3 linked regions of the Homo sapiens genome follow. The protein of the gene in region 1 purifies or fractionates together with the protein of each later gene. This does not show direct contact. Each region holds a gene or a part of one and is shown on either strand. Other genes may lie near its edges.

Region 1 (7,098 bases):
GAATTCATTCATTCATTCATCCATCCATCCATCCATCCATCCATCCATCCATCCGTCCATCCATTCAACAAATGGTTGAATGTCTATGGGTACCAACCAGGTGCTCTTCGAGATACTAGAAATATAGCAGTGAACAAAACAAAGTCCATGTTTTCACAGAGCTTATGTTCTATCAAGGGAAAAACAGGCTTATTAGAACAGCTGAGAATAATGAGTACCATGGAGGAGAATGAATCTGGGTAAGAGCAAAAAGGATGTGCAGATTACTATTTTAAACACCTGGTCAGGAAAAGGTCTGTCAGTTACTGAGACACTTGAGCAAACCTGAAAAATGTGAAGTTCCAGAATTCCAGGCAGAGAAAATGGCAAGTGCAAAGGCCAAACACTTGGGTCCACTTGCAAGCTAAAGAAAATAGAGCTAGTGTGGCTACAGTGGAGAGAGTTAGGGTAAGGGCTAAAGGAGACGGGAGGAAAAGGAGGATACAAAGGATCTAGACCTTGGTAGGCCATTTTCACGATCTGGGCATCTAGTATGAGAGAGACGGGAAGCCATTGGAGGAGTGTGGGCAGAAATGATCCTATTTAATGTTTTTTTTTTTTTTAAAGATCGCTAGCTGTGTGAGGAGAACAGACAGTAGGGAAACAAAGGTTGAAACAGGAAGACCAGTTCAATGGAGAGATCACAATGCATTCAAAGGAATATTTTAACTTCATTTGTCTATAAGCTGTGTTGCATTATAAGACTCAATATTCCAATAACTAAAACAGCAATCAATTGAATTACTCCCTTGTTTGCCACTGGCTTGGGTAATTAGAGTTTTTGAGGAAGAAGAATCATCATAGGTTACTTCTCAGGTTCTAGTTTGATCTATCGAAGAGTGTGGTTCCTTTATCTCAATCTAATAGGTAAATAAAACAAAAACTGCTAATTTCCCAGACAATCAGCTTTTTCAGAATATTCCCTCACAAATATCAGAAAGCAAACATTTTAATTTGCATGCTGGATTCAGGTTTCATATTATTGCAGTAGTTCATAACCCTAATCACAACATATATATATATATTACAGTAGTCAAAATTCATTTAATATTCCTGAAAGGTCCATTGAAATAAAAATATACTGCAAACCATAAAACCCACCAACACTCTCCCAGACTTCGGCTTCATAGTGAATTTATGAAATATCTCTATTAATGAGGCCAATCAATCTGATATATCCAATTTCCTTAACTTTAGCGAACAGTATGTCTAACAGCAGCCTCACCCAAACCATATTATCACTTTCAGTTATTAAAAGCTGGGTAGGAAAACCACCATACACTGTATACCTTTCAAGACTTTTAGCCACACTTGAGTGTTATTAATTGGTTTAAGAGGGTGTCAGAAACACATGCTTTCCTGCACACTTTGGTGATTTCATCCTATGCTCAGAGCACTCTGATAAATTAAATCATCCTGGCTGTGTCATGAATCGCAGCTGGCATGCCTGTGTACTGCTTTTTGACGATGAGCAAGCAATACAAAATGTGATGCTGATTCCACTCTTTCAAATCTCATTTTCAGCACTCATATAGTGTTACCAGGCAGGATTTTAAAACAAAAACAAACGTCATAATAAAATTCACTTTGGTTTCACAAAACCTAAGCCCTCGTGCCAGAAAATTGGAGGCTTTTTTTCTTTCCAAATAGCAGACAAGAATCTACAGCCATGAAGCGAAGTGGGTTGCGGGGTAGGGAGATGCAATATACATGGATAATCTAGCTATTTGCTTACCGATGGAGCTTTAATGGGGGGAAAGAGGGAGGAACTGCGGAACTGTTACAGCCACCTATACTACAGCCGTATTTCTACACCTTCACTGAACAGTGTCAAGAATCTGCCTCATTTAAGTTCTACTAACAAGTAAGGAGATTTCTCTCTCTAGGGATAGGCTTTTGCTGTTCTAACACCACTCCAGACTTCACCTTATGTGTCCCCCTCTCCTTTTCCCTTTCCTTCAATTACAAACTCCTGTTTTGTTTTGCTTCATCTTATTGTACTAAAAGAGTTCTTTGCAATAAGATGAACCCTTAAACCCTTCCTGGGGTAAAGAGAAAGAGAAATAAATAATAAAATATATAAAGATTTCTCTCTTCATGGCTAAATTTAAATATAGCAGGCATGGAGAAATGGTGAAAAGGGGTGTGTGGGTGTCCATGGCAAGATTTCTCAGTCTCTAGGAGAGAAAAGGATAGAGAACAAAATGTTTAAGGGATTTAAGAACGGTGTGTGTGTGTGTGTGTGTGTGTGTGTGTGTGTGTGTGTGTGTGTTACAGTCATTCCCAGGGCAGAGGGTAGAATTCAGGAAGAAGGGAGGGAAAAGAAAAAGATCAATCCAGGCAGTCACCCACCCCCAGCCTTCCCGACCCCTCTCCAACCCACCGCAGTGCTCTGAGCTGCTCAGAAAGCTCATTACCCGGAGGGCAGATTCCCGACACCAGATCAAGGGACCAAAGGCTGGGCAGCCAGTCTGGGGAGAGAGATCGGGAGGGATGGTGACAGGAACGAACGAGGATAGGAATGGATAGGGAAGGGGCGAGGAAGCCGGCGAGGCCCTAAGAGATCGCCGGCCGAGACTGAAAGACCGGGCTGGGCAGCCAGGACCTACCTGGAACCGTCAAGGTGGAGGTTGCCCCAGGCACCTCTGTCCTCTCCTCCTCAGCCTCCTCCAGCTGCTTTTGCTGTTGTTGTTGTTGTTGCTGCTGCTGCTGCTGCTGTTGGATGAGGCTGAGGTCGGAGCGGCTGAGTTCCGCTCTGGCGGCCGCGGGGACCAGCCGCGCTTTCAGCAGCACCACGGCCAGGCCGAGAAGCAGGGTGCAGGGGACACGCCGGCAGAGCCTCGCCATGGCCTAGAGCCAGAGGGCCGCGGCGGCATATTGCGGGGCTCCGGGCGGCGGCGGGCGCCAGGGCTGCGGGCTCCTGGCAGCGCCCGCTCGCTCGCTCCCCCTCGCGCAATCTGCCAAGCACTCCCTCACCGGCAGGAGGAAGAGGCCCGGGAGGCGGAGGGGGCGGAGGAGGAGGGAAGGGGAGTTCGCATCCTCGCGCATGTGACGCGCGGGGAGGGGCGAGCCGGGGCCCGCGGTCCCGCGCCCCGCAGCCACCTGGGGCCAGGCTGCTCCGAGAGGACGCGATGCTGGGGCTGCAGCCCGGGTGGAGGGCCCTAGGGGAAACAGAAAGGGGAGGCCTTCTGGGAGCTGGTAGACCCTCACAGCGTCCACTTCCCACTGAGGCACCGGGAAGATTTGCAGAGAGTGGAATAAAATTCCTTCCACCTGAGCCCAAAGTAGCAGAGAAGGTGGTATATTGATTACCCCCATCCAGCACATAGCGTGGGTGGCACCAACGGATCAAAAAGCCAGGATCTCAAACAAATAGGCTTTGCTGCATCACCGCCATCATTGCTTAGCTAGAAGTTAAACTGCAGCGCGCCAGATTTTGACTAAACTTCTTTTCTCTGCCCTAGTGGGAATTTCTTTCCATATCATTAAATATTCTTAATTACATTTTATCTAATTCTAGCCTATCCTTTTCATTTGTTCAAAAAAATCTTACTAAATACTAGTTGCTTACCATGTGCCAGCATTTCTTCAGGTGCTTGGAATAAGTAAAATACAATCCCTGCATTCCAGGAGCTCAACATCTATTAGGGGAGAGGAACACAGGAACAAATTAGAACCCAATGTGGTGGCTACAAACAGAAAAGCAATACAAGTCCAGAGGTCTCAGAATTGGAAGAAAATATCTTGTGTATGTAGGGGCTATGAAACACCAGGAGAGGTAGAATATAAAAAAGAGTAAGACTTCCACACAGGAGAAATCAGGAACGTGGAAGAGTGTGTGTGTGTGTGTGTGTGTGTGTGTGTGTGTGTGTGTGAAGCCCAGATGTGTGTAAGCACAGTGGGCTTGCAAAAGTGTGAGCAATTATTCTAATGGAGGAATGACAGTGTTTTAGATTGAAAAGGAGAGTGGAGACCAGGTCATTAAAAAAATAATAATAACAAGCATTTCTATAGTACTTACTGTGTGCTCAAGTACTTCACATTTGTTAACTTCTGTAATAAACTTAGATGCTGTATACAGAAATTGAAATTCACACAGTAGATGATAATGAAAGAAATTAATCAGGGAAGAAACTTGCTACCAGTTGTGCATTTTAGGAGGATCACTTTGCTCTCAGTATGGCAGATGGATTAAAGGGGGATAAATTGGAAGAGAAGATGCCAGTTTAGAGGTGTTTGCCAAAACCCATAGGAGATGCCAAAGGTCATTGAAACTGAAAAGGAGAAGAAAAGAGTAGGAGACACAGTATATAAGACTACAATAAACAGATACGGTTAATTGGAAGAGGAGGAGATATGCCTAGTGTGACACCTAAATTGACAAATTGAGATCTTAGGTGGCTGCTTATGACCTTATCAACATTAACTGGCCTAGAGTAATGAGCCCTGCCTTGTTCAGTTGTGGTCTCTTTGTATTTGGAGTAACTGTGGGACATCTCATAGTGCAATATAAATGTCACCTGCTGTGACATCACCCCATTTACCATTGTAGTTCATTGTCCTTTTCCACCCTTATCATTCTTACCTTGTCCCTCCCAGTGTTTTCAATATGCTGGAAAACAACAAACTTCTCAGTACTGGAAAAGTATTTTTTGGTTAAGCAAATGAAAATAGTGTATATATAACTAATGGTTTAGATGTTTTGTCCTTTCCAAATCTCATATTGAAATGTGACCTCCAATGTTGGAGGTGGGGCCTAGTGGAAGGTCTTTGGTTCATAGAGGAGAATCCCTCATGAATGGCTTGGTGCCCTCTTCATGGTAATGACTGAATTCTTGCTCTGAGCTCACAAGAGATCTGGTTGTTTAAAAGTGTGGCAACTCCCTTCTCTCTCTCGCTTGCTCCCTCTCCTGTCATGTGACACGCTGTCTCCCTTTCACCATCCACCATGATTGTAAGCTTTCTAAGGTCTCACCAGAGCAGATGCCAGCACCACACTTGCGTTGTACAGCCAGCAGAACTGACCTAAAGTAAACCGCTTTTCTTTATGTCACCCGAAGTTTACTGCAATGCAAATGGACTGACACAATAACCATAAATAAAATAACAGTAGGTATTTTGCATCTATTATCTCATTATATCTTCAGAGCATCTCTACAAATTAGCTCTCATTATCCTATTTAGCAAATGGAAACACTGGAGATCAGAGAGGCTCCATGTCTTGCCAGAGGCTACATTTACAGTGTGTGACTTTACCTTTCTGCACCGTTTGAGACTTCTGCTATGAGTTTGTATTGCTTTTTTAGTGATTTTAAAACAAAAATAAGGTATGTGGACCACATAATTTTGGGGAAAATAGATACTAAAGTGAGGCCCCTCACACTAAACATCATTCTTCCATCAGGACTTTCTTTCCCTGGTCTGTGTGAGGCAGGAGCCATTGGGGGAGGGGGCTCCAGAGCTGAAGGCAGCAAGTTTCCATTAGTTTCATCAAGCTGTTTTTATGGCAATCTCTTCCAAGTTACCTCTGCTCCTGGAGAGAAGAAAGGAGAAAATGGAAATGGCTCCAAAAACCTGACTGGTGGATCAGAAGGAAAGGAATGCAGCCAGGATTTCTGTCATCCTGCCTTGGGGTAGCCAAGTTATTTTTAATATAGTAGAAGCAGACCTTCTGGAGGCAAAGCCACTGGGTCATGGACCCTGGTAGAGGGTGGACCTCAAATCTTTCAATACTATGGACTGTTTTAAGAGGTAAGTGTTGTCAATCAAGAGTATTTAAATAGTTTTTAAGTGCTTCATTATTCGTGTAGTTCATGCTTAATTTCTGTGCAATATAAAAAAGCCATATTATCCGATTCAATTGGGGATAGTACTTGGCAAATGAAAAAAGTTCATCAAAAGACCAAAGTCAATACATCCTAAATATATCTTAAGCCACATATTTTACCCTAGAATAAATAAATATATATTTGTTCACAAATCTTTTGATGTAGGGCCAAGAATTTCAACCACATCCTAGAGTTTGAAGTCATAAACCACAGTTATGATATACCACTATGATTTGCAGGTTTAGTTTAAGTGGAAGTTCTCAAAGACCCTTGCCACACAATTAGAGTGCCAAGTCATTCTATGTTCAATTTTTTTCCCAAGCTTGTAGAATTTTCTCATATACTTAGTATTAAACTTATATTTTATTTTATTTTATTTTTTGAAACAGAGTCTCGCTCTTGTCTTCCAGGCTAGAGTGCAATGGAAAAATCTTGGCTCACTGCAACCTCCACCTCCTGGGTTCAAGCGATTCTCCTGCCTCAGCCTCCTGAGTAGCTGGGATTACTGGTGCATGCCACCACGCCTGGCTAATTTTTGTATTTTTAGTAGAGACAGGGTTTCGCCATGTTGGCCAGACTGGTCTTGAACTCCTGACCTCAGGTGATCGCCCGCCTCAGCCTCCGAAAATGCTGGGATTACAGGCGTGAGCCACCACACCTGGCCTAAACTTAGTTTTAATAGGAAAAATTTACTTATCTCAAATCCATATTGTATATATTCCTTATCACACATATAACTGGCAAAAAAGAAAAAGTTTGTGAAAAATATAACTGACTTTTGGCACAGGCACAACCAAATGACAGGAGTAAACATAGGCAGACATTCAGGAAGATGTAAGCTGATAACTACATTTGCCCTAAATGTTTGTCTGTGTGTTTTACAAAGGAATGAAAAATGCCAGTTAATCCAGCAAGTTATTTTCAGGTACATAGTCCATGATAAAGTTTATGCTAAACACAATGTAATCGTTAAGGTTAGAAATTCATCATTTTTAGAAAAATGCCCCAAGAGCCATCAGAAAGCAAAGCACAATACTATACACATATAATTCTTCCCCACTTAAAACCTACTGGTACCTCCTCATTACTCTTAGCACAAATCCAAAATTCCTAACATGATTTACAAAGCCGTTTGCAATATGTCCCCTGACTACCTAGGTTCAGGTTCATTTTAAAAATTTTCCTGCATACACACACACACACACACACACACACACACACACACACGGGA
Region 2 (7,114 bases), on another chromosome or scaffold:
CATTTGAACAAAGGGTCTTTTTTTTTTCCCCTCATTTGAGGGGAAGACAATCTATGTTTCCCAAACAGATCCTCCTTTCATACTAAAATAGCAAACTGTGGCCTCGATCTCCTCTTCCCAGATGCTACTTATAGATGACTTTGCATAATAACTTAATTAGAATTACTTTTCTGGTAACAGTGTCACGGCCATAAATAATCAGTTTTTAAAAAACAAACATCAAGTGCAAATCTAGAAAACTTCCTTTAAAGAATTACCCAAACCCAGCACACATGCAGAATCATTATTAACAAGCTAAGCAATATGACTTTAAAACGTGTATATAATGATACACGTGCACTAAAGACCATCTTTTATAAAGTTTTAATAGTGTTGCCAAGTTAATAATTCTTTCAAGGCACTGGAGAATTACACAGATGGAGTTTCCAAAATATAACTGACAATTGCTTGAACTGTTAAAAAGCCCTGAGTCAGAACTTTCAATAACTTCCTGAAATTATAGATTGCAGACAAAATGGCACGTTTATTTTACTTTAAAAATTACAGGACCATTTTGCTTTTTGGAGGAAATAAGCTGGGTTTATGAAACAAATCATGCAGACTATACAGGAAAAGTAAAATATTCAGCATATGACCTTTCTTAGACATTTTGTACATGTCGATCACAACTTGTAGTTACAGATTTAGGCACCAAATTAATGTGACAAGTCACTTCTCCTGTACCTACTGCTTAAATTCTCAATGAAACAAAAATGTCAATTTTAACCTCAGGTTCCCATTTCCTCTTTACTCACAAATAAGAATAAATGCTGGAAAAAGTAATACTCTGACAGAAAAGGAGGTAGAAAATGCCAATGTAGCAATTTACAATTTTAATTCATCGGCTCTACTGTCTAGTTTACGTTTTTATACCAGAGTTTCACATACTACTAACCAGTAAATTGAGGCTCAATCTAAAGGATATTCCCCCTCACTGTAGTAAAGCAATGTACACGAGACAGCATTAAAGTTTCCTCAAATTTAATGTTTTAAAGAAGTACAACTATCATTATTAATACTGCTATAGTTATATATATGTTAAATTTCCTAGGCTATATATGACTATCAAGTAATATCAGTAAGCATTCCTATCATAATATTCAAGCAAATGAAGTAACGTTGCCTTTTTGAGGGAAAACATATTTTGAAACTTTTACAAGCAGACATAAAGACAGTTGACACTTCCAACAAGGCACACATAATTTATGAAAATCTATTATGTTCCCAATTGTACAAACTCAAAGCTAATCTAATTCTGATATTTAAAATGTGCCTCTCCCCTCTGGCTCAAAATGAAATAACAAACCCTTCCAATGAATAGACATTTAAAACCTACTCAATTTAATTGCTAACAATTCAGAGGAGAGGTGCACTGTCCCTCCCAAAAATTTTAAGAACTTAATGTTTACCATGACCTTAGATCTTGCAAACACAAACAACTAAAGAATTTAGGTGTTTCTTGATTTATATGGAGTCAAAATTCTATTCCACTGAGGAGAAAACAAAAAGGGGAGTTGTTTAATGGGTATGGAGTTTCAGTTTTGCAAGATGAAAAAGTTCTGGAGATCTGCTTCACAACAGTGTAAATGTACTTCACATGGCTGAACTGTATTCTTTAGAAACAGTTAATATGGTAAATTTTATGTTATGAGTTTTTCATCACAAAAAATACAAAAAACTATTCAAAAATTCAATTTTTTACACAAATTATTACTATAAAACATGGTAGACATTCTGATAGGATAAGTGCTTTTCCTTTTGGATTAAAAAAAGCAACCTGTATTAAAGCCTATAATTTGATGACATCTGTATGATCCTCTTTTTTTCTCTACACTCAAATGCTGACTTTCCTTTCCTATCTGTTGTAACCCCACTGTCCTGATCCTACTCTACCCCATCTCTAATTCTCTTAGTTCATGAATTTAACTAATTCTTAGTCCAAAAAGGGTCCAGAATTCAGAGTGGACAAACAGCAATTGGGCAACACATAGACAGTATGTTTCTACTATGTAAAAATGACCCAGCAAGTTTTGATATTTGAACCAGACACATCTTAAGCAGCATGCATTTCAATATGCTAAAATGCTCTTACAGGCTAACACCATAAAAATATAAATTTTAGAAATGTATTTCCAACATTAATTATCAATTAATTTTATGCTTCCATAGCTAGCTGGTCAATTTGCAATGTTTAAAGTTACAAATATCTTATGCATAATTTGACCAACTAAACATTTGTCTAATATATTCCTACACTAATACAAAATTATCTTTTCTTGAAAACCTTCTTGCTCCCAACAAAATTAAATATGTATATAGTATAAGCAGTAAGAACGTTAAATTACGTGAACAAATACCATTAGAACAGCACCATCTGGTATGTTGTATGTGTATGTTTTGAGTAACAACGCTAACAATCTTAGAAGAATAAAGGAGAAAATGGTAGGGTGAGGGATACAGAGAGGAAATCCAAACACTACTCAATGACAACTCTTCTGAAACGTTAGGAAATGTTATCAGGACCTTTGGATCTCTTCCTTTTAACTACAGATTCCTTAAAATACACAACTGCTGCACAATAAATTCTGAGTGTGCTAAGATGCCATTTTTCCACTGTTGTGTATCTAATCCCTAAAGCCCAATAAATACTTTTTTGAATGAATGCGTGTCAGTTTTTTTCTTTTTTATAAATGTTTCTAAGAAAAGTAAAAGCTCTTTTGAGGCACAAGATAAAGAGGTTTAGCTAATGAGCAGGGTAACGAACCTAACTGGAAAAGTACTGCTAAGGGACATATAATAAGAGGTAGCAGATTCAGAGAGTTGGAGGAAAGTCACTGAAATGATGAAGTTCTTAATCTTATTATCTCTCACAAACCCAAAATAAATTTAAAATAATTCTAAGTGATTGAAAACATGAATAAAGAAGTATTTTCTATTCATGGAACAAATTTCAAGGTGATACAAATACAGAAAACCCACAAGTACTAGCACTAAAATTATAATGACATTATTTCTATAATAAAAATTTATGTCATATTCTTATAAAGGAAATAATTAAACTAGTCTGGAAGATGCTATTACCTTTTAGGGATCTGTTTTAGCACTGCAGCTCAGAAAACAGAAAGGATTTGTTTAAGGAAAGTAGAGCTGGAGACCACACAATTCTCTGATTGGCCAAACTCTGCATGAGTCAGCCAGGTGCTCCCTCCTCACCAGGTGATCTAGTGGGAAGAGATGGGTAGCCCATGGCATGGAAGGAAAGGAAAAACCTGACATGCTGTTTTCATGTCTGCAACATGATAGTCTGTCTGTCTCTTTATGTGAACATCATCAGTCAGATGTTCTACCTTTTTATAACTTCAAAATAGTTTTAAAAACAGCGTCGGTGGCCCCTTATTAGATAACTGAGTGTACATGAATTTTCAAATTTGAAATCTATAAAAATTTTACTGTTCTAAATGATAGCAGTTACTCAGCTAAACACAGACATGGAATTGTTGAGACTACAAAACCAGCCAGCAAAGCTCCCCATTGCTTTCACCAGGACTTGCAAAGGCAGCAAGGATTAAACAGCCAGAAACAGTGTAAGAGGGCTAGAGACTTCATACTTTCAAATTTAGTTGGTGTTCTATAAAAACTGAAGTAAGAAAAGCTAGCCAGATTTAAAGGAGGGAAAAAAACTACAAAAGAGGATAACTATTTTTAGGAAAAAGCTTATCAACAGCATATAGTAGACACTATGTAAACACCTGATATAATCTAGCAGCAATGAATCCCCAAACATTTATGTGTATATTTACTCAGGAGACAATAAGATTACAAAGGAGATAAAAGGAGAAAAAAAATGATTAAATGCTCCAAAAATTTTGTTTGTTTTTAAAGTCTACAGGTAAGCAGACATTTCTATACATGTCCTGGTCACTCTTTCTAAAGTATTTATAATTAGGTTATTGACCATGTCTTGGATATTGTTGGCAGTTTAAATAATACCCTCATCCGTAGGTATACACAGAAAGACTGTTTTCTTTATAACAAAAAATACTATAAAGAAAGAGATAATGGAAATAAGGCCTATAATGAAGACAGAATCACTAACACTGTCAGAATTAACTGATACAGAGAAGAAAAGATTTTTTCTTGGAAAAGGCATTAATTTTGCAGATCACTGGGATACTATGTACATCTGCAAAGCTAAATAGAACCTCAGAGGTCCAAATAGGGCAATGTCATTTCACTGGTCAGATCAAGCCCAGATAAGTAATCACAGAAAACCGGAAGTACACTTTTCATAGATTTTTTTTAAAAACACTGGCTGAACAAAATAGTGTATAAATTAATGTAAGAAAGGCAACTGTTAGTGGCCAGTTAATAGATACTCGTTTTTTTTTTCTCTTCAGTTGCCCACTATTATTGCTTATTTTTCCTTTTCTTGTCTATCAGTCACCTTGAAACTGGTAATCTGATTCAAGTTAAACAATGTTCCTTTTGAATCTAGAAAACAAGAGAAATGCAAAGTCATTATTCCCTCATTCTATGCTTCCATTTACTCTAAGAATTCAGAAACAAACATGTGGGTAACTTCCTGTTATCTTAAAAAAAGAATCATCCCTTCGGTATTCCCTTAACTATCTGGAACTTGTACTGTCATTTTATAATTTACCATGTGACATAATTGTTTGACCTGCCTCTTTTATTTGATGCATGACTTCTCAGAGAACCTGTTATCAACTCACTGTGTAAAACCACGATGAAATGAAGGATAACTGATCACAAAGAATTATGTCTTTTGAGATCCAACAAATTTACAAATTATAAGAGAAAAATGCAATTTTTTAAAAAAGGATATCCTTAAAGGACTTTCCTCTTAGAAGCCAAAGGTAAATTATCCTATGAGTTACATGAATTTGATGTTTCAAATTTAAAACAAAAACAAAAAACACAATTTCCAACACCATTTTGTAGGGTTTTTTGTTCTGGTACATTTACAGCCCAATTATACTCTAGTAAAGAAACTATGATATTAGAAATTAACTCATCAGAACTTCCAACTAGATCAAAAGCCTATTAAGATCTCATGACTAGATACATTAGCTAACAAAATACACCATGTGTCTTAGTTAATACAAAAGAATCCTTCGTTCAATAGCCTTGCGACAGATAGGACATTCACTCATGCGGTCTCCACAGAGTTGACAGGTTCCGTGACCACAAAGGAAAATCATATTCTTCAGACGATCTAGACACACAGGGCACATTGTCTGTAATGTGAGATAACAAAGTAATAAATTAGACACTTTATATTTGGAAAGTGACAGACTGTTATATATCATTAATTTTCTTTAGTTGTTTTAGTCAAATAATATTTTGGTGGTTTTTAAAAACAATTTTTTAACATTTTTAAATAGTTAAAATGTCATCCCTATAAAATAAAATAGAAACACTGGTTGTACTATCAGGATAGTATGAAAGGTACTACATAAGATTAAAAACTATTAATATATAAAACACAGCCAGACACCCTGGCTCACACCTGTAATCCCAGCTACTCAAGAGGCTGAGGCGCGAGAATCACTTGAACGCGGGCAGCAGAGATTGCAGTAAGCCAAGATCGCGCCGCTGTGATAGAGGCAGGAGGCAGAGAAATTCTAGGCAGACAAGGGTGGGTCCCCAGTGAAACCCAACCTTTGAGCTGAAAAGCCTGAAACCCACAGGCCAAAGTGAGAACTTCTATTCCTGCTTGCCCACTCTCTCCCAATTGGTTCTTTCTTTCTTTTTTTTTGAGATGGAGTCTCACTCTGTCGCCAGGCTGGAGTGCAGTGGCGCAATCTCGGCTCACTGCAACCTCCGCCTCCTGGATTCAAGTGATTCTACTGCCTCAGCCTCCTGAGTAGCTGGGACTACAGGTGCGCACCACCACACCCAGCTAATTTTTTTGTATTTTTAGTAGAGATGGGGTTTCACCATGTTGGTCAGGATGGTCTTGATCTTCTGACCTCGTGATCTGCCCACCTCAGCCTCCCAAAGTGCTGGGATTACAGGCATGAGCCACCACGCCCAGCCCAACTGGTTCTTTCTAAATAATGTCTTTTTACCAATCGATTGTTGCCTTTTCCAAAACTACCCACAGCCCACCCTGCCCACTCCTCCCATGTTGTGCCTTTAAAGACTCCAGACCCAGGTAGTAGAGGGGAGAGAGGCAACTTGACTTCAAAGGGATGACTGGACTTCGGAGGAGAGATGGCTTAACTTCAGGGAAGAGATGGCCGGACTTCAGGGGAAGATTACCTACCCGTCCCACCCCCACTCCAGTTCCCCTCTCTGCTGAGAGCCATTTCCATCACTTAATAAAACTCTCTGCCTTCACCATCCTTCAAGTGTCCAGGTGACCTCATTCTTCTTGAACACTGGACAAGAGCTCGGGACACACCGAGTGTGGGTACCCAAAATAAGGCTGTTACACTGGCCCTTTGCCCTCACTGGCGGAGGGCAGCTACCCCACACTATGAGGCAAGGGGCCAACTGAGCTGATAACACACCGCTGTCCGTGGACGGCAGAACTAAGAGAGCACTCTAACATGCCCTCAGGGGCTTTGGAGTCGCAGGCACCCCCACCTGGGTGCCGCTGCATGGATCCTGCAATTGCTCGTTCATGTGCTCCCTCCCGCAAACAGTTGAGCACAGTGGCCAAGTAAGCAGCGCACCTCTGTCGCAAGTATGACAAAGGGGTTGAGAAAAATCCTGCATCAACTGCTCTCCAGCCTGGGCGACAGAGCAAGGACTCTGTCTCAAAACAAACAAACAAAAAAACCTATATAAACCAAAACGTAATAGGAAATGGATGAAAATAGCTCCATTCAGTCTAACTGAAATTCCCTGAATCTAGGTACTCAGCTGCTCTTGCATAAAAAGAAGGCAATGTATCATGCAATACATGGTGCAGGGTGGGGAGCAGTGCTGAGAAGTAGCTGAGAACACTTGTCAGGCACTATGCTTAGATAGGATACAATCTCAGTCCTGGTATCATTCCCACTTGGAAAATGAGGAAAACGAGGCTCAGCGGGATTGAAAACCTTCC
Region 3 (7,114 bases), on another chromosome or scaffold:
AAGAAAGCTGCACTTACTGCATACACATAAATAGAGTTATTGACTTCTAAAGCTATGGAACCTCCTTCATGGGCAAGAACATTAGACAACAGAATTTTCTTTTAATAGTTTCTCCAATACGAAGAGACAAAGTACAGTGTATTTAATAGTTTGTAAGCATACCAAATTTCTAGCTCAAACTCTGTAAACTAGCTAAGGGAGGAACTGACATCTTAAGTGTCTAGTTAGTAGAAATGCAAATATAAAACTACAGGGACAGATTGTTAGACACATTTAAAAGAAGAGCAAAATATCTTGAATAAAAGGCAAAATAACATCCTAGTCCAAAAGTCTATGTATTTATGATCACCTTCCTGGTAATTTGACTCCCCCTTTAAGCCACCAACTCTCAAAGAAAAAATTCAACTTTTATTTCTATAAAATATGGGATGAAATGCCTAGCTTTATGTCTTATAAAGCACCAAGATAATTAGTTTTGGAAATGACATTTACTCTCCTTTATATTTATATGAAGGCTGCTTGATCACAGAACATAAAAAACAATGAATCACTGTATTTTGCCATTAAATATCTCAAAGTCTAAATTACAATACGGTGCAAATGTCATTTAATTTTCATTAATTAACCCTTGAAAGGATGGTTGAATGGTGACAAATACTTTTCTAAATCTTTACAATTTAAGGATGGGGTATACAGAGTAAAATAAAAAACCTTCAGACTTTGGCAATACATGACACACTAAACGTGTTTATTTCCATTTCCTCCTAAAACCGCACAAAAAGGACACTAAAGGAAACAAAGACTTAGGCAGAGAGGGGATTTTGGAAGTAATATAATCTAATTGATTCAGTGCACAGTGATTTGCTTCTTACGACATGCTACAAGTTAGTAGGAGAATCTAGTTTGGAATACAGTCTCTTTTTTAAGAGGGGGTGATGGGTAGAAACAATGGAAATAACATTTATTGAATGACTGCCATCAGCCAAGCACTGTGCTAGGGGCTTGACATGTAAGTTTCCAAGCTCTTTTTCACTGCAAGATATACAGCAATTGGAGGACATAATTTTGTACTTTATTCTAGATTAGTGGTTCTCAACGGTGACAGGCTATGAGTGTGCTGAAAAAATGCTCCAGGCTTTCTCCAGAACTTTGATTAGGAGTTCCTATAGCTTCATCCAGGGCAGCACTTCCCAAACTTCATTCATTCCTTCTCCTGTCTTTTTTGTTGTTGTTGTTTTTACTATATCCATGAACCAAATTATCGTCATTTCTGCTTTTCTTTTAAATCAACTCATTTTATTTTTACTTTCACATTTATTTAAAAAGGAAACTCTACATCAGTTCTGTGGACAAATGTAACCGTACACATAAACATAATGAAAACAAAGAAGTGTTATTAGCTTCCAGAGATACTACTGCCTGCTGAAAGGCTTTGAGCTGGAGGCTTGCTCTCTCTGTAGTAAAACCAAAACCAAAACAAAAAGCCCCCCACAACTCCAGTTTATTTTAATGCCACCTCATTTCTTAACCTGCCATCTCCTTCCTTTCTACTCTTCCCCACCACTGAGTTTGAGATCGGAGGGATACATTTTCATATACTGAACAGTATCTATTGAGCACCTACCATGTGCCTACCTACTGCCCCATAGACATTGTCTCGGCCTCCACGAAGTTCAGTCTGGCAGATGATGGACACTAACTACATATATACAAAATAAACTCAATGTTACCCAAGGGAAAATACAGATGCTACAGGAGGACCCAACATGGGGAGTTAATCTCATCATGGAAAGCCTCTGAGAAAAAGAGGTGTGCAGCACCTATTCTTCAGGTGCAGGACCTGAAGAATAAAGAGGAATAAAAATTGGGAGGAAAGCACTCAAGGTAGAGGGCCAGGAGACAGGGAAAAATGAGAGGGGTCACTGGTCAGGAGTTGTTCACAAAAAACAGCTAAAAAATTGTGGTAAAGACAGGCAGTGGCCAAAAATGCTGCGTCTGATTCCTGATTCTGGAGGAGAACTAACTGGGCCAATGGTGAAACTGGAGATAGACTCCGGAAGCTGCAGTGGCTGAAGTGAGTGAGGGAGATATTCGTCCATGATGAAGACGTCAAACAACTGAGAGGCTCAAACGTGGGCAGATCACCTGGGGGTATGGTCACATCCCCCCAGGATCAAAGTAGCTAGTGTAGAAGAAACTGGAAAGAAAGGAAATGGATTCGGTCTTCCTGCTCTGAGATTCAGGAACTTCAGCAGAATGAACAGCTGTCACAGGCGAGGGCTGCAGGGCAATGAGTGTCCTCACCAACACAAGGCTTGGCAAAGCATAACTCCCACATGGAATTCTGCCTTCCCGCAAACTTCCTGAACCTCCTATCAAGGCCTTAGCTATTCCTCCTACATAAATTCAGAGTATAGCTGTATAAAGGATGGCTTCTCCTTCACCCCAGAGCCCTCCCCACCTACCGTACTCATCTGGCGCTGGTATATGCTGCTCTGTACTGCTAGGCAGTCTATCCCATCTCAACTACCCCTTAAGAACAAGGCCTATATTTTTTATTGCTGTACGTCATAACTAGCACATGCTCAATAAATATTGATGGAGATTAGTTTAAATTTGATTCAGTATGTGACAGATCTTTATAAATTGAATAATGTTATGCAACAGGGATTATAATTGTTCAAACTGACATACAGTTGCCTATTATAAATTCTCTGAAACAAAAACAGTCAATGCTAACAATCTTGGAAGACCTTAAAAGTACCTAATTAAATGCATTCTTCCGACTCCCAACCTGATACCTTCATTTACCATGTTGTCCTAGAGGATAATGGTAGGAATAAAAGATCACCAAGTGCAGTTTCCAAACCAGGTTGAATATCACAACTGTCAGGAGAGCTTTTTAAAAATATGGATTCCCAGGTCCCAACCCAGAACGAGTAAGAAACTCTGTGTTTGCGCCTTGGAATTTATGACTTTTAATTGGCTCCCTGGGTGTTTCTGAGGCATTGGATTCATGTACTGCATCTAAGGGCCACTAATACAGTTCCTCAATTTCCTCTGCAACTGACCTGCAGAATGGTGCTTCAGGCTATTTGAATATTTCCAATGAGAGATATAATCACTCACATTCCATTCTAGATTTAGATTACTCTAGATCAGCAAAATTGAAGGTCTCTAATAAGAGCAGGGTAGCAGAGAGGTTCAGAGTATAGGATTCAAATACGATCTGTGACTCTAACCAGCCTTGCAACTTTTATAAATGACTTAATCTCCCTGCCTCAGCCCCTCATCTTTAAAATGGGCAAAATAACAGAATCTATTCTCACAGGATTATTGCAAAGTCTGAATGAGGTAGTATACATAAAACACAGAGTCTGGCAATGGTAATCACTGAATAAGCTCTATTATTATTGTTCATGGTTCTTTCAGATATTGAACTAAAATTTACATTTGATAGTTACATCATTATAAAACACTCAGAATACCATGCAACCATTTAAAAATCTTGGGGGTTGGGGGGAAGGGGACACCATTATGCAGTTTTAATCTTAAATTTAAAATTTCACATTTTTCTTTTTCTCATTGCAAATATTTTGCAATATTATGGAGCATATAGGCATTGTAAACTGAGCTTGGATCCCAACCATGATATGACATTGTATGTGTCCTCAGTTTGTGGTAGAGAAGATTTGTCGTGATCTACTTACCCAACGGCTCCCCTCTTTGAGCCCTATCCCTATCTTCTTGGGTCTAGGAGGAAGACAACCTATTGGCAAAGTAAGCTAATAGAATCTTTGTTCTTGGAACTTGGAATTGAGACCCTTGTGGGTCAGGGTCATTTGAGGAAAAGGAGGCATGTGGGGGCTGAGGCAGTCAGGTTTGGGCCACATACAAGGAGAAGCTGTAAGAAAGGACAAGAGGGATGGGGAAGGGAGAGAGTGGGAAGACAGGAAGAGGAGCAGGAGAAAGACAAAGAGAGACTCATACATGGTGCTTTGGTGCCTGATAGAATTCTACTTCCTGGCACTCCTGTGACCCTTTTTTTTTTTTAAAAAAAGAAACAACTTTATTAAATTTTACTCAAAATTAAAACCACAAAAGTGAAGATGAATGTGCAAACACGTAATAAATGCGGAAATGGTTAGGCAGGAGAAAAAAGATTAAGTTCACAAAAAGTTATTGAACTGTGTCTGTGGCTGCCAGGCAATCTTCATCATAGATCTCTAGTCTCTTCCTTACACAGTGGAGTGTGGCAAGCAAACTGCCCATGTGGCCAAGATTTGTGGTTCTTGTGTTGTACAGACATAGCCATTTGCCTCTACCTACCAGACAGGATTTAGGAAAACACTATAAACTCCCTTAAACTGCTCTTAGGCCAAACATGGCAGAAGAAACCTGGCACACTGATTTTGAGCCACAAGAGAAAGAGGCTGCACAATAGCCTTACACATCCAGTTAATACTGGGCACTTCACTCATACCATGTACATCCTGAACACAGAGGACTTCTGATTTGAAAGACTAACGGATATAACCCATTTGCAGGTAACAGGCTGTTCAGCAGCTGTGAGAGAAAACACTGGCAAAGATACGTGTCCAAGAAGGTGACAAAGCAGAAAAAAATAGTGAGGGAAGAACAAATCATCCTTGGTATCAGGGTACTATTATTTCCTCACACTAAGTCTCCTTTTTGCTAAGTCAGCTTGAATGGGTTTCTGCTACTTGCAGCACAAACTGCATTGACTATGACCATTCTGCTCATTCTAGACTAATGACTTTAAAACTACAGCTCAGCTAGGTCAAGGATCCATCGTGGAAGATGAAGTACAGTAGGTGGTGCAAGAGTTGCTAAGGAGAATTAGGACACTGTCCTAGACCCTCAGGAATTTACAAACCAGCTTGAAAGACAGCCCAGAAACAGCCAACTGTATCTAAGACAATGTGACTGAAATGTAATTATATTGTGAATGCAACAGAGAAAAGACAAATGTGTCAGTTCTAGGAATGCAATTCACTTATATGTTTGGGACTTCCTATAATATTAGGCCTGCATGCTTTGAACATATGATCCTTTATACTATAGTTATTTTACTTTCATTTCCAATCCTTTAATTTTTCCTCACATATACAGCCTCAGATGCAGAATTGTTCACCAAATCAGTTAAGTGGGCTGAGGTCATTAAGGCAGGTATATTAGATGCCATGGGAGACACAAGAGTACGTGCATTTGTATTTGGAAAAAAAAATATATATATATATATTATGCCTGCTGTTTTTAATGTAGCAGCTGACATTTGAAACCCAAGAACAGATTTCAAAAAGGAAAACCAAAGTGTCACCTTCTTCTTATCAGTTAAAAAGGGCTATACTATGTTTGTGGATGAAGTTACTTGATAAAATTTTTTATTACCTTTCCTTTTTGTGTGTGTGTGTGTGTGTGACGGAGTTTCGCTCTTGTTGCCCAGGCTGGAGCGCAATGGTGAGATCTCGGCTCACTGCAACCTCCACCCCCCAGGTTCAAGCGATTCTCCCACCTCAGCCTCGCAAGTAACTGGGATTACAGGCATGCACCACCACGCCTGGCTAATTTTTTGTATTTTTAGTAGAGACGGGGTTTCTCCATGTTGGACAGGCTGATCTTGAACTCCCAACCTCAGGTGATCTGGCTGCCTCGGCCTCCCAAAGTGCTGGGATTACAGGCGTGAGCCACCGCGCCCAGCCTATATTACCTTTCTTCAGCATTAATAAATAAAAATGTAATAGATAAGTGTAAGACTCAAGTTTAATCCAACTCCTTTTTCATCTTTCAGGTATACAGAATGTAAGCTTTGCTAGGATCATAAAGAATCAGAAATGTGGATGATTTTACCCCAGAAAACCATGTTGAATATTGACTATATTATTTTTAAAAAAGAGAAGAGCCTATAGCTGTCACCCCTAACAGATTGTCTTGTTGCCGTTCCTGCCAACTTCTGAGGGAAGAAATATTTCCATTCTGTTCCAATTTTCAACACAAATAAGGAAGTAATATGGCTGATTTCCGTTCTGGTGACTCAATATTAAGTTGGCTGAGGAAACTGATGTTTGCAGAAATAGTTCTGGGAAAATGCAAAGCAGGGAAACACATTGATGCCCAGGTGGTATTTTTTTTTTTTAAACTCCAATTATATTGGGATATTAGTGCTTCATTCTCTATAATCAAATGTGTTCTAGGCTGCATTTACAGCTCATCCACCCTTCTCTGCCTGCACTGTCACACTTGGAAAACGGACCAGTTCCTACAGCAGGCACACAAATTGACAAAGCAGCATTCTGAATCGGCAAAGGGGAGAAAAAGCAAATGAAGAGCAGGTTGTTAGCACTACCCTACCCTTTGCAAAGAATAAACACAAAGTTGTTCTGCCTAGACTCAAGCATTATTATAGGGATCTGTAACTAAAAAAGGTTAGTGACATTCAAACAGAAATCACTATCCTGAGGGCCATTTACTCAAAAGTTTCTAATTAAAATAGCCTTTATATTACTACCTTGGAGCTATCACATACCCCATAACTAGCATTTGGTCAGTCTGAGCTCAAACTTCAACATATCTTCTGGCACCTGGAGAAACATCGTCTGTATTTATCAGAGCTTTGCTTTAAACCCAGGATTATTTCAGTTATACCCATAACTTATATCCTTTTTGCCATAGGTATATTTGCTGAATAGCTACTGGATGCAAATGACAAAAACATCAATGAAACAGGCTTAGATTTATGATCTTCCCAGGCCATTTTTCCCCCTCTATAGTCTGAAACATCTCTATTTGAAACTCAGTCTAGTTAAAACAGAACTCCTCTTACCCTCAGATCTACTTGTTCAGCTTATGAACAGCTTAGATAATAGCCAGACAATTCTTCCAGTTTTGCAGTATCAAAATTGTAAGACAATCATGGCTCAGTGGTTAGGAGAATGGGCTCTAGAGTTAAGGTGCCTGATCCTACCCCTGGGTGAAGCCATAGGCTTGCAAGGCCTTAGTTTTCACATTTATTAAATAAAATAATATTAACAGTAACTGCATCATAGGGTAGTTTTGAGGATAAGATGAACTAATGTGGGTAAATTATAAATAT

The links.
Region 2: the proteins of FAM171B (region 1) and MIB1 purify together in Homo sapiens (affinity purification with mass spectrometry; 2 studies listed by BioGRID and IntAct, with this or other methods). This does not show direct contact.
Region 3: the proteins of FAM171B (region 1) and MFAP3 purify together in Homo sapiens (affinity purification with mass spectrometry; 2 studies listed by BioGRID and IntAct, with this or other methods). This does not show direct contact.

The regions. Positions count from the first base shown.
Region 1 is NC_000002.12:186,689,962-186,697,059, reverse strand, and holds the start of FAM171B (protein FAM171B precursor), read right to left. Parts: upstream 3,001-7,098; 5' UTR 2,887-3,000; coding exon 2,649-2,886; intron 1-2,648.
Region 2 is NC_000018.10:21,862,709-21,869,822, reverse strand, and holds part of MIB1 (E3 ubiquitin-protein ligase MIB1), read right to left. Parts: intron 5,298-7,114; coding exon 5,157-5,297; 3' UTR 1-5,156. UniProt on the Homo sapiens protein: E3 ubiquitin-protein ligase that mediates ubiquitination of Delta receptors, which act as ligands of Notch proteins.
Region 3 is NC_000005.10:154,041,877-154,048,990, reverse strand, and holds part of MFAP3 (microfibril-associated glycoprotein 3 isoform 1 precursor), read right to left. Parts: intron 1-7,114. UniProt on the Homo sapiens protein: Component of the elastin-associated microfibrils.